Linked DNA regions of Homo sapiens: region 1 is linked to region 2. The links come from fine-mapping of genetic effects on gene expression. Tissue or cell type: blood mononuclear cells. Region 2 holds a variant in brackets; the other region holds the start of a gene. All regions are shown on one strand. Distances are between the middles of the regions.

Region 1 (5,510 bases), 110 kb before region 2:
TCTCTGAGCCCGCAGACTGAGGTGTGCCTGAAGGGGTGAAGTCCAGCAACACTGGGTCTGTCTCTGATGGTCTCTGGGCTCTGGCAGGCAAGCACTGCCCCTGCTAGCCTTCTAGGGGAGGAGGCTGCAGCCCCCTACTCCACCCCGGATGTGGGCACCGCTCACCAGCAACCACATGCTCAGACATTAGAAAAGCGGCTCTGGGGTGGGTCTTCAGGGGAAAACCAAGCCCGGAGGCTGAAAAGCCAGTGAAGGGAAGGTCCAGACCATTCATTCCCTAGGCTCTTCTCTTCCCTGCCCATCTTGTAATTGGTGTGGGAGAAATTCTTGACAGGAGCAGCCTAAACACTGCATACCCAACCCTCTGTGAGCTCTAGGACCATTTTCTTTTTGAGATGGAGTCTCGCTCTTTCACCCAGGCTGGAGTGCAGTGGCTTGATCTCAGCTCACTGCAACCTTTGCTCCTGGGTTCAAGCGATTCTCCCACCTCAGCCTCCTGAGTAGCTGGGACTTGCGCGTACCGTGCCCGGCTAATTTTTGCATTTTTAGTAGAGACAGGGTTTCACCATGTTGGCCAGGCTGGTCTCGAGCTCCTGACTTGAAGTGATCTACCCACCTCGGCCTCCCAAAGTGCTGGGATTAGATGTGAGCCACTGCGCCCGGCCTCTAAGACCATTTTCCAAATCCTTCCTGGGGATCTCCGTGTGCCAGAGGGACCCTGAGCGAGGGTGACCTTATGTCCCAGTTTGCCCAAAATAGTCCTGGTTTACGGCCCAGGTTAATTCTGATAGTGCCCCTTTCACTCTCAGAAACATCCTGGTTAGATGATAAATTATTTCATGACCCCACTTCAACATCAAACTGAACACATACACACATGTGCCTCTCTGTGTTCTTGGCAGTTAAGGGGACAGCGTCCATATAGTCCCTAAGCAGAGAAACCCCAGGCTTATCTTTGACTCCTCTTTGTGAGACCTATGATGTTACAATTATCTCTTGAATATACCCTCCCATTTCTGTCCCCACTGCTCATGATCTATTTCAGACACAAATAATTACAACCTACTATGGGGTCTCCCTGGCTTGAGCCTCTCCCTTCTCCATAGTTCTGCCAGCGATCTTTTCAAAACACAGATCGATGCCTCCTGGCTCCCCATGACCTATAGATTGAAATCCAAATCCCCTCATGATCCTTTCCTGCTTCATCTCCTGCCCCCACCTTCCTACCCTGGGCTCTGGCAGACTGCTTGTCCCCTGAAAAGCCCACATTCCTACTCATTTTGGTATACTTGTTCCCTTTACTCCCTCCTCCGAGTCTGACCCTTTCTTCTCTTTTCTGCTGCTCTTATTTGACTTTCAGCTCCTTCCTGGGACTGATCTCAAGTGTCATCTCCTCGAAGGCCTTTTCTGATTCAGCCCTCCCGTCAAAAATAATCACTCCCCCTCCACTAAACCCTAAGAGGGCTTGGTTTTTAACATTTACTACAATTTGGCCCCTGCATAAGATTACATAAGATTCTGCTTATGTAACCATCTCTCCTGCCTATGCAACAAACTGCGAAGGCCAAGAATGGCATCTCTTGCAGTGCCTGAAACAGTGCCTGCTTCATGGAGGAGTTCATTGTTAACAAGTCTTAATCGAACAAAATTGATAATCCACCTCAAATTTTCCACACCGGGTTGCCCGGCACATCAGCCACTCATACCTGGGAACACTGGGGACAGACTCAGAGGGCACTGTGACATCAGTTCTACCACAATATCTTGTGGAAGGGATATCTGCTAAGAAGAATTCAGATGTAAGTGGCTGCATGCCTCCTTCAGGAGAAAGAGCAAGCTTTCCCTCACCCATCCTCTCCTCCTTAGGTCCCACTGCCTCCTCAGGGTCAGACTTCATTCCCCCTCGTCTTTATGAATCCTCCCCTTACTCTCAGTTTCTCAGTTCAGAAGGGATCTTGCTGCCTCCAAGCTCCTGACTCATAATTTAGGACAACTAATCTGGTGTTTCATTAGGTGTCATCTTTTGAACTGAGCTTACATCTGTGTCTGGCTTGACAGGTTTTTTAGGATAGGAGAAGACAGGGAAGAGGCAGATGTGAATCCCAGGTTTCACCCCTTTCCAGCAGGATGATCTGACTACACCCCTTCCTCGCTGCCTTAAAACCCTTTCGCGTGGCTTCATGAGGACCTGACTGGGTCAGAGAAGCCACTCATAGGGTGAAGACATGAGCCCCACATCTCAGGACGCTAACAACTGCTTGACTGCCCAGGGCGGGCTCCCCCACCCACCCAGATCTGCTGTGTCCCGGCAGTGGAGTCTTTCCTAGGGAACAGGTGGATTTGGGGTGGGGCGTGCCTTAGGCCCCATACTCATAAAATCCCGGGGCTCTGTCTTCTCACCTCTAAAACAGAGAAGACAGCAGCCGGTGGGTGCAGGTGGGAAGGGGTGAAGTGGAGGCTGAGAAGAGGTTAGGGCTCTCGGGCACCCACCACCTCTTGCAACGCGACCCTGAGACAGTGGGGCAAGTATCCCGATTTCACGAACAAAGAAACTGAGCAACTAATAGAGGAATGGGCCACGCTCCTACTGGGAGGCCGGGCAGGTCTCCCAGCCCTGAAGACTTTTCCTCCCAAGATTTAGATGTGAAGCCCCTTTTGCCTGTCCCTGCCCTTACCCCTCGGGTCAGCCCCAAATCGGAGGCCACCATCTCTCTCACAGAAGCCTGCCCCTCCCACCCCATCCCCTCCTCCCTCCCCTCTTTCCTGCCCACCCATTTGCCTCCGGCTTGGGTGGCAGGAAGGGAGGTGCAGGGCCGGGCGTGAAGAGCAAACCCCCTCCTGCTCAGAGCTGCTGCCGCCTGCGCCCAGGGCTGCACTCCGCGCAGGCCTCATAGCCAGGCCATGGCCCCCACAGAGCCCTGGAGCCCCAGCCCGGGGTCAGCGCCCTGGGACTACTCGGGGTTGGACGGCCTGGAGGAGCTGGAGCTGTGTCCGGCCGGGGACCTGCCCTACGGCTACGTCTACATCCCCGCGCTCTACCTGGCGGCCTTCGCCGTGGGCCTGCTGGGCAACGCCTTTGTGGTGTGGCTGCTGGCCGGGCGGCGGGGCCCGCGGCGGCTGGTGGATACCTTCGTGCTGCACCTGGCGGCAGCTGACCTGGGCTTCGTGCTCACGCTGCCGCTGTGGGCCGCGGCGGCGGCGCTAGGCGGCCGCTGGCCGTTCGGCGATGGCCTCTGCAAGCTCAGCAGCTTCGCGCTGGCGGGCACGCGCTGCGCGGGCGCGCTGCTGCTGGCGGGCATGAGCGTGGACCGCTACCTGGCCGTGGTGAAGCTGCTCGAGGCGAGGCCACTGCGCACCCCGCGCTGCGCGCTGGCCTCGTGCTGCGGCGTCTGGGCCGTGGCGCTGCTGGCCGGCCTGCCCTCCCTGGTCTACCGGGGGTTGCAGCCCCTGCCTGGGGGCCAGGACAGCCAGTGCGGCGAGGAGCCCTCCCACGCCTTCCAGGGCCTCAGCTTGCTGCTGCTGCTGCTGACCTTCGTGCTGCCCCTGGTCGTCACCCTCTTCTGCTACTGCCGCATCTCGCGCCGCCTGCGACGGCCGCCGCACGTGGGTCGGGCCCGGAGGAACTCGCTGCGCATCATCTTCGCCATCGAGAGCACGTTTGTGGGCTCCTGGCTGCCCTTCAGCGCCCTGCGGGCCGTCTTCCACCTGGCGCGTCTGGGGGCGCTGCCGCTGCCGTGCCCCCTGCTGCTGGCGCTGCGCTGGGGCCTCACCATTGCCACCTGCCTGGCCTTCGTCAACAGCTGCGCCAACCCGCTCATCTACCTCCTGCTGGACCGCTCATTCCGAGCCCGGGCGCTGGACGGGGCCTGCGGGCGCACCGGCCGCCTGGCGCGAAGGATCAGCTCAGCCTCCTCGCTCTCCAGGGACGACAGTTCCGTGTTCCGTTGCCGGGCCCAGGCCGCGAACACTGCCTCGGCCTCCTGGTAGCTGCCCCGGGCCGCTGGAGGTGGGCGGCAGCGGAGCATCGAGAGGAGGCCAGAGGTCCCGGAGGGGACTGAGCTCCCCAGACGCGCCTGTTCTGGCGGCAGCAAGCTGCTCGGGCCGGCATCGCATTTCCTCGCGCGCTGCCTGGACTCCCAAGGCCTCCTCCATCGGTTTCCCCGGAACCTCAGAACAATTGAACTCCCCTAAACCAGGCTCCTGTGACTAGCTGTTCCCTCTCAGCCTGCAGGGTACCTGAGCTAATTTTGTCCAGTCCAAGATAGGTGCTATGAGATGTAGCAGACAGCAACTCGGAGACCCGCAGATTCACCAAGTAGACAGAAGGGAAGTGGGTTTCCTTCTCTGTCCCATCGGGAAGAGAACCCACCAGAATATCTAACCCAGACCCCCAAATGCCATTCTGATTTCTGGCTGTGCTTTCTCCCGTCTCCCACAATAGCCGTTGCTTTCAGAGAAATACCTTCTCCAAGTCAGACCCCCTGCCCTTCTCACTCACAAAACCCTTGCATTGAATCTGGTGACACTTCTCCCCCTGTGAAGCGGCAGGACTCACCTGGAAGTTGTTCTGGTCTTTCCCTCTGGACAGAAGGTCCTGAAATCGCTCACCAGGCGTTTTTTGAGGTCTCCATCACTCAGCCAGGAACCTCAAAATCTCTGTGAATTCATCTTTCTCAATAAACACTCTTGCTAGCCCTGTCTTGACAACCGTCTTTGCTTGAGCAGTGGGAGTGAAATGCATATCAGGAGGCGGGTCGTACACTGGGTGAGACAAAACTCAACACAGTAGTTGAGGTTGATCTCAGGATGATGAGGATTTGGGGTGGTGTCTGGGAGCATGAGAGCTGGCTGCACTCTGCAGGTGCAGTAATCCCACAGGAGGAAGCAAGTCATTTATTCTTATTTTTAAGGACATTTCACATTTTGAAAATTACCGAAAGAAAATATATTTATATAAGGGCATCTGCCAGCCAAGTGTCACTTCCAAGAGAAGATGTGTCATTTTGGATTTTCAAATATATACCAGGCCCCCCCTTTTTTTTTCTATCTTTTTTCAGACCTTCCAGTACAAACTTGGAGGATTAGCCATTTTCTGACTCTGTCATTTCTCATTTGAGGTTTCTGTAGGGTTTGGAAATTCACTGTTTATACTTTTGATTTAAGAGGATTTGGCCTAAAGACATTTCAGTCAGTGCACATCCTAGCCAGATCCCCACAGGCCAGTCTTGATGTTGCAAGCTCTGGGGGAACGGGTGGGTGTGCACGCACATCAGCACCTCAGCACTAGGTTGGGTCTGAAGGCTGGCATTCTGTCGCAGGCTATCCATCCCATCCCCCCATCAAATACCCCTGTATTCTCTTCAGCATTTGGAGCTGCTTGGATTGAACATCGGCTCTCCTAGGTCAGCCTGCCAAAAAGTGCATCTCTGCATGTTCCTACCATATACTCCAAGAGAGGCAAGCCTTGCAGCCTGTGAGGTCACCTCTGCCAGCAGGACACATTTCAGGCA
Region 2 (5,000 bases):
TCTCCTGTCCCGTAACCAAGTTCCACATCTTGCAGCTTCGGTCTGTGAGAGATGGGAGGAAGCCACAGGGAGGGGAGGGATGTCAGCCACTAGGGGGCGCAGCTCCACCTCTGCAGGGGCTGCCCAGGATAGGGGAAAGGGATCCACAGGGCTCCAGAGGACGGAGCTCCAGGTCTGAAGAGGAAAAAAACACATACACATGTGCTCACTGGCATGTGTGTGCTAGTAAAAAACTCAGGGAAGAGAGAATTCCCTCAGAACTTCAGACCAGGGTTCCTCAAGCAAACTTTCCACTAACACCAGAGTTTTGTGAGCCATACTGCTAAGGTGTCCAGGGCTAAAATAAAATTCTTAAGCTTTTATGGTGCCTGTTCCTCCAAACACTAATTGCTGACAAAGCAAATGAACCAGTGCAAGCAAATGTTATGGGAAAACTTGGAATCAATCAATCACACCTAGATTGACAGCTATCCCCCTACTGCCGTGGAGAGCTATATTTATGCTTGTGTTATAGTATGCGTGTCTATTACAGACTAGTTCTTTCTGTCGGTAAAATGAATGAATGAAAGAGTAAATAAAGAATTTTGTATTTGCTTATTGAGATAGGGTCTTGCTCTGTTGCCCAGGCTGGAGTGTAATTGCACAAACACAGCTCACTGCAGCCTTGACCTCCCGGACTCAAACGATCCTCCCACCTCAGCCTCCTGAGTAGCTGGGGCTACAGGCACATGTCATTGTGACTAATTTTTTATTTTTTGTAGAGACAGGATCTCACTATTTGCCCACGCAGGTAGTCTCAAACTCCTGGGCTTAAGCAATTCTCTTGCCTCATGCTTCCAAAGTGCTGCAATTACAGGTATGAGCCACTGTGCCCAGCCTATCTGCTGGTAAAATGTTTGACTTTGTTGCTGTAATCAGGTGAGCGTGACTTTGTAAAGTGCTGCTGCTGAGATCATAGGGAGTGCCTAGATGTATGAGCTGGGGTGATGTTGGGCAGTGCAAGTACAGGTGGGGCACCCAAGAAGCTTCCTGAAGTTTCCCTGGAAGGTCTGGAAGGAAGTGCTGGATGGAGCCACCAGGTCAGGTATGAGGGAAGGCTTGGCCAAGGATGCATGGGATGGGGGCCTTGAGCCAAGGTAAGAAACAAGGGTAGTAAGCAAATAGACCCCATATCCTCAACTCCTGGGGGCTCTATGTTCTTTTCTCCTTCACAGACCACTCTGACAAAGGAAGCAGGGGTGAGTAGGAGACCCCAACCCTACCTGGCTAGTTGGCGTTCCACATACCTTTGGACCCTGTGAATAGCAACTCATCTGTGGCATCCAGGCAGAGGATGGGCTTGGTGTGGCCTTCGGCCATGGAGACACACTGCAGTGGGGCCGTCCGTGCACCCTTGGCTCCTCCAACCGGGGAGATGATGCCCCTTCCCGGGAGAGAGGGAGAGAAGGCATGCTCGTCAGCCAGGGAGACTGTGGCCAGGCTGATCAAGGCACGTGTGTGGGATGGGGACAGGGCAGGGAGGGGATGAGGACCAAATAACAGAGACTTTAAGGACTCCAGCCAAATTCCACCAAGGTCTGAGAGCCGGGAACGGGCTACACAGAGTGGAGATAGCCTGTCTTAATCAGCAATCATCAGTTGCCATCCTGAGCACTTCTGGGGAAGCAAACCCGGTGTTAGGCACAGCTAGAAGGTGCAGGAGGTGTGGGCTCTGTCCACAGAGAGTTCCTATCTGACAATGTCTGACCCAGATCCTGAGATGTGAATGCGCCCGGGTCCAGCTGGGCAGGGCAGAGGCCCAGGGGCTGGAACTGGGCCCTGTAGCTTCCACCAGAAGCTGCATGCTGCTTCAGTTAACCGAGTGTGAGGGAGGGGTGCTGAGAGGGAGGGTTGCTCAGGCCATCACCCCCATGCACCCTGATCCCAGTAAACCCTTCTGCTGGTAACTGCCTCTGAGGCTAGCATCTTCCAAGCAGAGAGCCATGTGTACACATACACACTCCTTTTGGACCAGCGGGGTCAAACTTGTGACTGGCATTTACGAAGGGCTAAATCCCTTTGGGGCTGGCTTGGCTTTGGGTAGGAGGTTTGGGGCTCTCTGGAATGGGGCTGTATGGACCTGGAACAACACCTCCTCGCTCCCATGATGCTAGGGGAGCGAGAAGGAGGCTGGCCCAAGTGAGCGTGAGGGTTTTGCCACATCCAGCTTCCTGAGGTTCTGAAGATGATTTTTTTCTCAGTGAGGGTCTTTTGGGATGAGACCCTGGCTGAGTCATGTCTGAAAATATATCCTAGCTTTGTTTCTTTTCCCAAGAGAAAGCTGCTCCTGACAGTGACTCTGGCCAAGGGTCTACTGAAATGATCAAGGTTTTGCCTGTGGCGCTTCTGGCACAGCTCCCCCCAGACTCTGCCAGGCCCACCCTTGAGGATGGTGGTCGGATACGTCCAGCTGCCAGCCAGGTGCCACACATGCACAAATAGCTCCCCAAGCTGCTCCAGCACCCT[G/A]CTTCTGACAATGGTTTGGCTTCACTGCATGGCCACAGAACTATGTCAAAGGGATCATGCTCCCCCCGATGACAGCCTGGCCAGCTGGCTAACATCTTGTGGTGGCAAAGCCTCATGATTCACAGTAAACCAGTTGTCGACACTCAGGGCTGGAGGCTCGAGGAGCTGAGACAGCCCACCAGGAGAGCCGAGGAAGCTCTCAGCCCACGAGGGGCCCTTGGCTTGTCAGGGGCTCGGGACCCCAGGTCCTGAGTCTTGCTCCTCGTTGTGCGGTGTCATGCTCGGCTGGCTGGGAGAACCAGCCTCCAGCCATCCCACAGGCTGCGGGAAGGGGAGGTACCCACACATCTGTGTGCTAACAGGTGTGGGCAAGGGGCGCTGCCCCCATGGTGCCCCTCCCCCCATGGTGCCCCTCCCAGAGCCAACGTCTGAAAAGCTCACCCCCAGCACAAGCTGAGGGAATCAAAGGACCCAGAGCACACCACCGGCACCCCCAAAAGGAGCAGCCTTCAGCATTTCCCCTGCCTTCCAGTCGTGGAGAACTCAGCCCCAGCCCAGCATCCCCTAGGCCTCCATGCTGCGCCCCTCCCTGCCCAGGTGAGGAGGGAGAAGAGAACAGGGCCTGCGACAAGCAACTGTGCACCCTCCCCAAGCCCCCAGCTCTAGCTGGCGCAGTCCAAGGCCTTGTGGCCACCCTGAGAGAGAGGAACCATGGGGGCAGGAACAGGTCTGGAGAGGGGGGCAGCAGGAAGGGGAGTGGAGGGGCCGCATGCTGAGGACACGGGTGTCAGGCGGGAGGGATGCAGCAAGAGACAGAGAAGAGAGGGTGCCGAGAGTGAGAGTGGGGAACCAAACACGAGAGACATTCTGTGTGTACCTCAGGACCTCCGACAAAGAGGAGTCGCTGTCATCAGACCTGGGGAGGGCAGAAAATTAGCTGGATTAGGGGGTGAGAGGAGACACACACAGAGGGACGCAGAGGCGGCAGCAGTGTGTGGGGTGGTCAGAGGGCAGGTTATTCTCTTCCAGCGGAGCAGAGACAGGCAGAGGAATGAGGGCCTCGGGAGAGCAGGGGAGGAGGTGGGTGGGCTGGTCTGGGAGCTGGGACTCTCCCCCAGGAGTGGGCTGCCAGGGTCTCTCGGCTGGCAAGGGAGGAGCGAGGAGGGGGCCACGGGGAGATGTGGGAGCACCAGCCCCACACATGGGGAGACGTTTCCAGGGCTGTTTGCTGGTTCCAAGCTCTCTGGCTGCCCCATCGCACAAGCTGGGGGCACCTGCCCCACCCCAGCAATGCTCATACCTGCCCAAGGCTGAAGGAAGCCATGCCTGATCCTACCCCTCCCTGGGAGCTGGCTTCTTCCAGCAATTCCTCAGGGGCTCACTTATTTACAAAGCCCACTATCCCTAGGGGGCCCACTGGGACAGTGCCTAGAAGTTGGCTGTGCACCATGCACAGGCTCCAAGACCTGGACCATTGGACAAGACCAAGGCCTCCAGAAGACCATCAGGCTGGGATGGGCACAGCCCTGCCCCAATCCTTCCAAAAAGGGGACCTGTTGATTGTAACAACATGGAGATGGGCTAGGAGTGATCCATGGCTCCCCCCACAGCAGCCTGAGCCAAGATAGGTTTGGGGAAGGAGGTGTCTGGGGTGCCAGGTCTGCAGGGCTCTGACTCCTGGGCTCAGCATTCATCAAGTAGTATTTTGACCCAGGAAGGGGCATTTCTGTGGAGAGGTGGGGAGGGTGGACATCAGGCACTAGGTACAAGGACAAGTATTTTCTAGTGTGAGACTCCCCTGAAGGCCACAGCACTGTCACCCCTGGGGCAGGGAAGCCTTCAGGGAGCTAAGAGAGGAGCCCTCTTGAGGGCTGCAGAGAGCAAAACAGGACCAGGGTGGGCCCAGCAATGCTGGGGAGCCCAGAGCAGCACATGGAGGATAGGGTCCTCCCCTTTCCTGAGGCACAGCAGGCAGGGGCTGGAAGTCCCAGGCTCTGGGTGCAATTCTGCCACTTTCTAGGTGAACATCCCTGGCTCCCTCTTTGAGCCTCATTTCCTCTTATGTGAAATAGGGAAGACAATTCTCGTGGTTGTTTCATAGCCTAATGAAATCACATATATGAAAGCAGGTTGTAAAGCACAGGGAGAAAGCCTGAATGCAGGGGAGGCTGTTAACATAAACCACACCATTAGGCAGTAGAGTCTTGCATCAGGAGCTGTGAATATAGGTGGACCTGAACCTGCCTGAGGAAGGCAATTTGGGGGTCTGGTCTCTTTCTGCTGGGAGAATGCACAGAGAGTGGAGTGGTTGAAGCTGAAGGAAGGGGCTTCAGAGCAGACTCAAAGCAGCAGCAGAGGTGGATTAAAGGGCAGCTCTGGAGAGCCCTCAGGCACCGGCCCCATGCGACCAGCCCACCTGACTGCCCGGCCCCAATCCCTGTGGCCTCCTTCTTGCCCTCTCCTGAGGTCCTGGCATTCTCAGGGGAGGAGAAGGG

What was found. PIP is the estimated chance that this variant, and not a neighbour inherited with it, causes the effect. A credible set is the group of variants that fine-mapping cannot tell apart.
Region 1: it holds the start of GPR25, and the variant in region 2 is the best candidate, but not a certain one, in a credible set for the expression of GPR25 in blood mononuclear cells (TOPMed, PIP 0.76).

Annotation. Positions count from the first base shown.
Region 1 is chr1:200,870,137-200,875,646 of GRCh38, forward strand. GPR25 (G protein-coupled receptor 25) reads left to right here and starts at 2,845. Exons shown (of 1, transcript NM_005298.4): 1 at 2,845-4,042. The coding sequence starts at 2,902. The coding sequence ends at 3,987. RefSeq lists an enhancer at 2,897-3,539.
Region 2 is chr1:200,979,674-200,984,673 of GRCh38, forward strand. KIF21B (kinesin family member 21B) reads right to left here. Exons shown (of 35, transcript NM_001252102.2): 28 at 3,383-3,421; 29 at 1,287-1,423; 30 at 1-42. Among named protein-coding and RNA genes, the nearest start is that of KIF21B, 42 kb to the right of the region's middle. RefSeq lists an enhancer at 15-164. The variant G/A (reference allele first, on the strand shown) is at 2,506.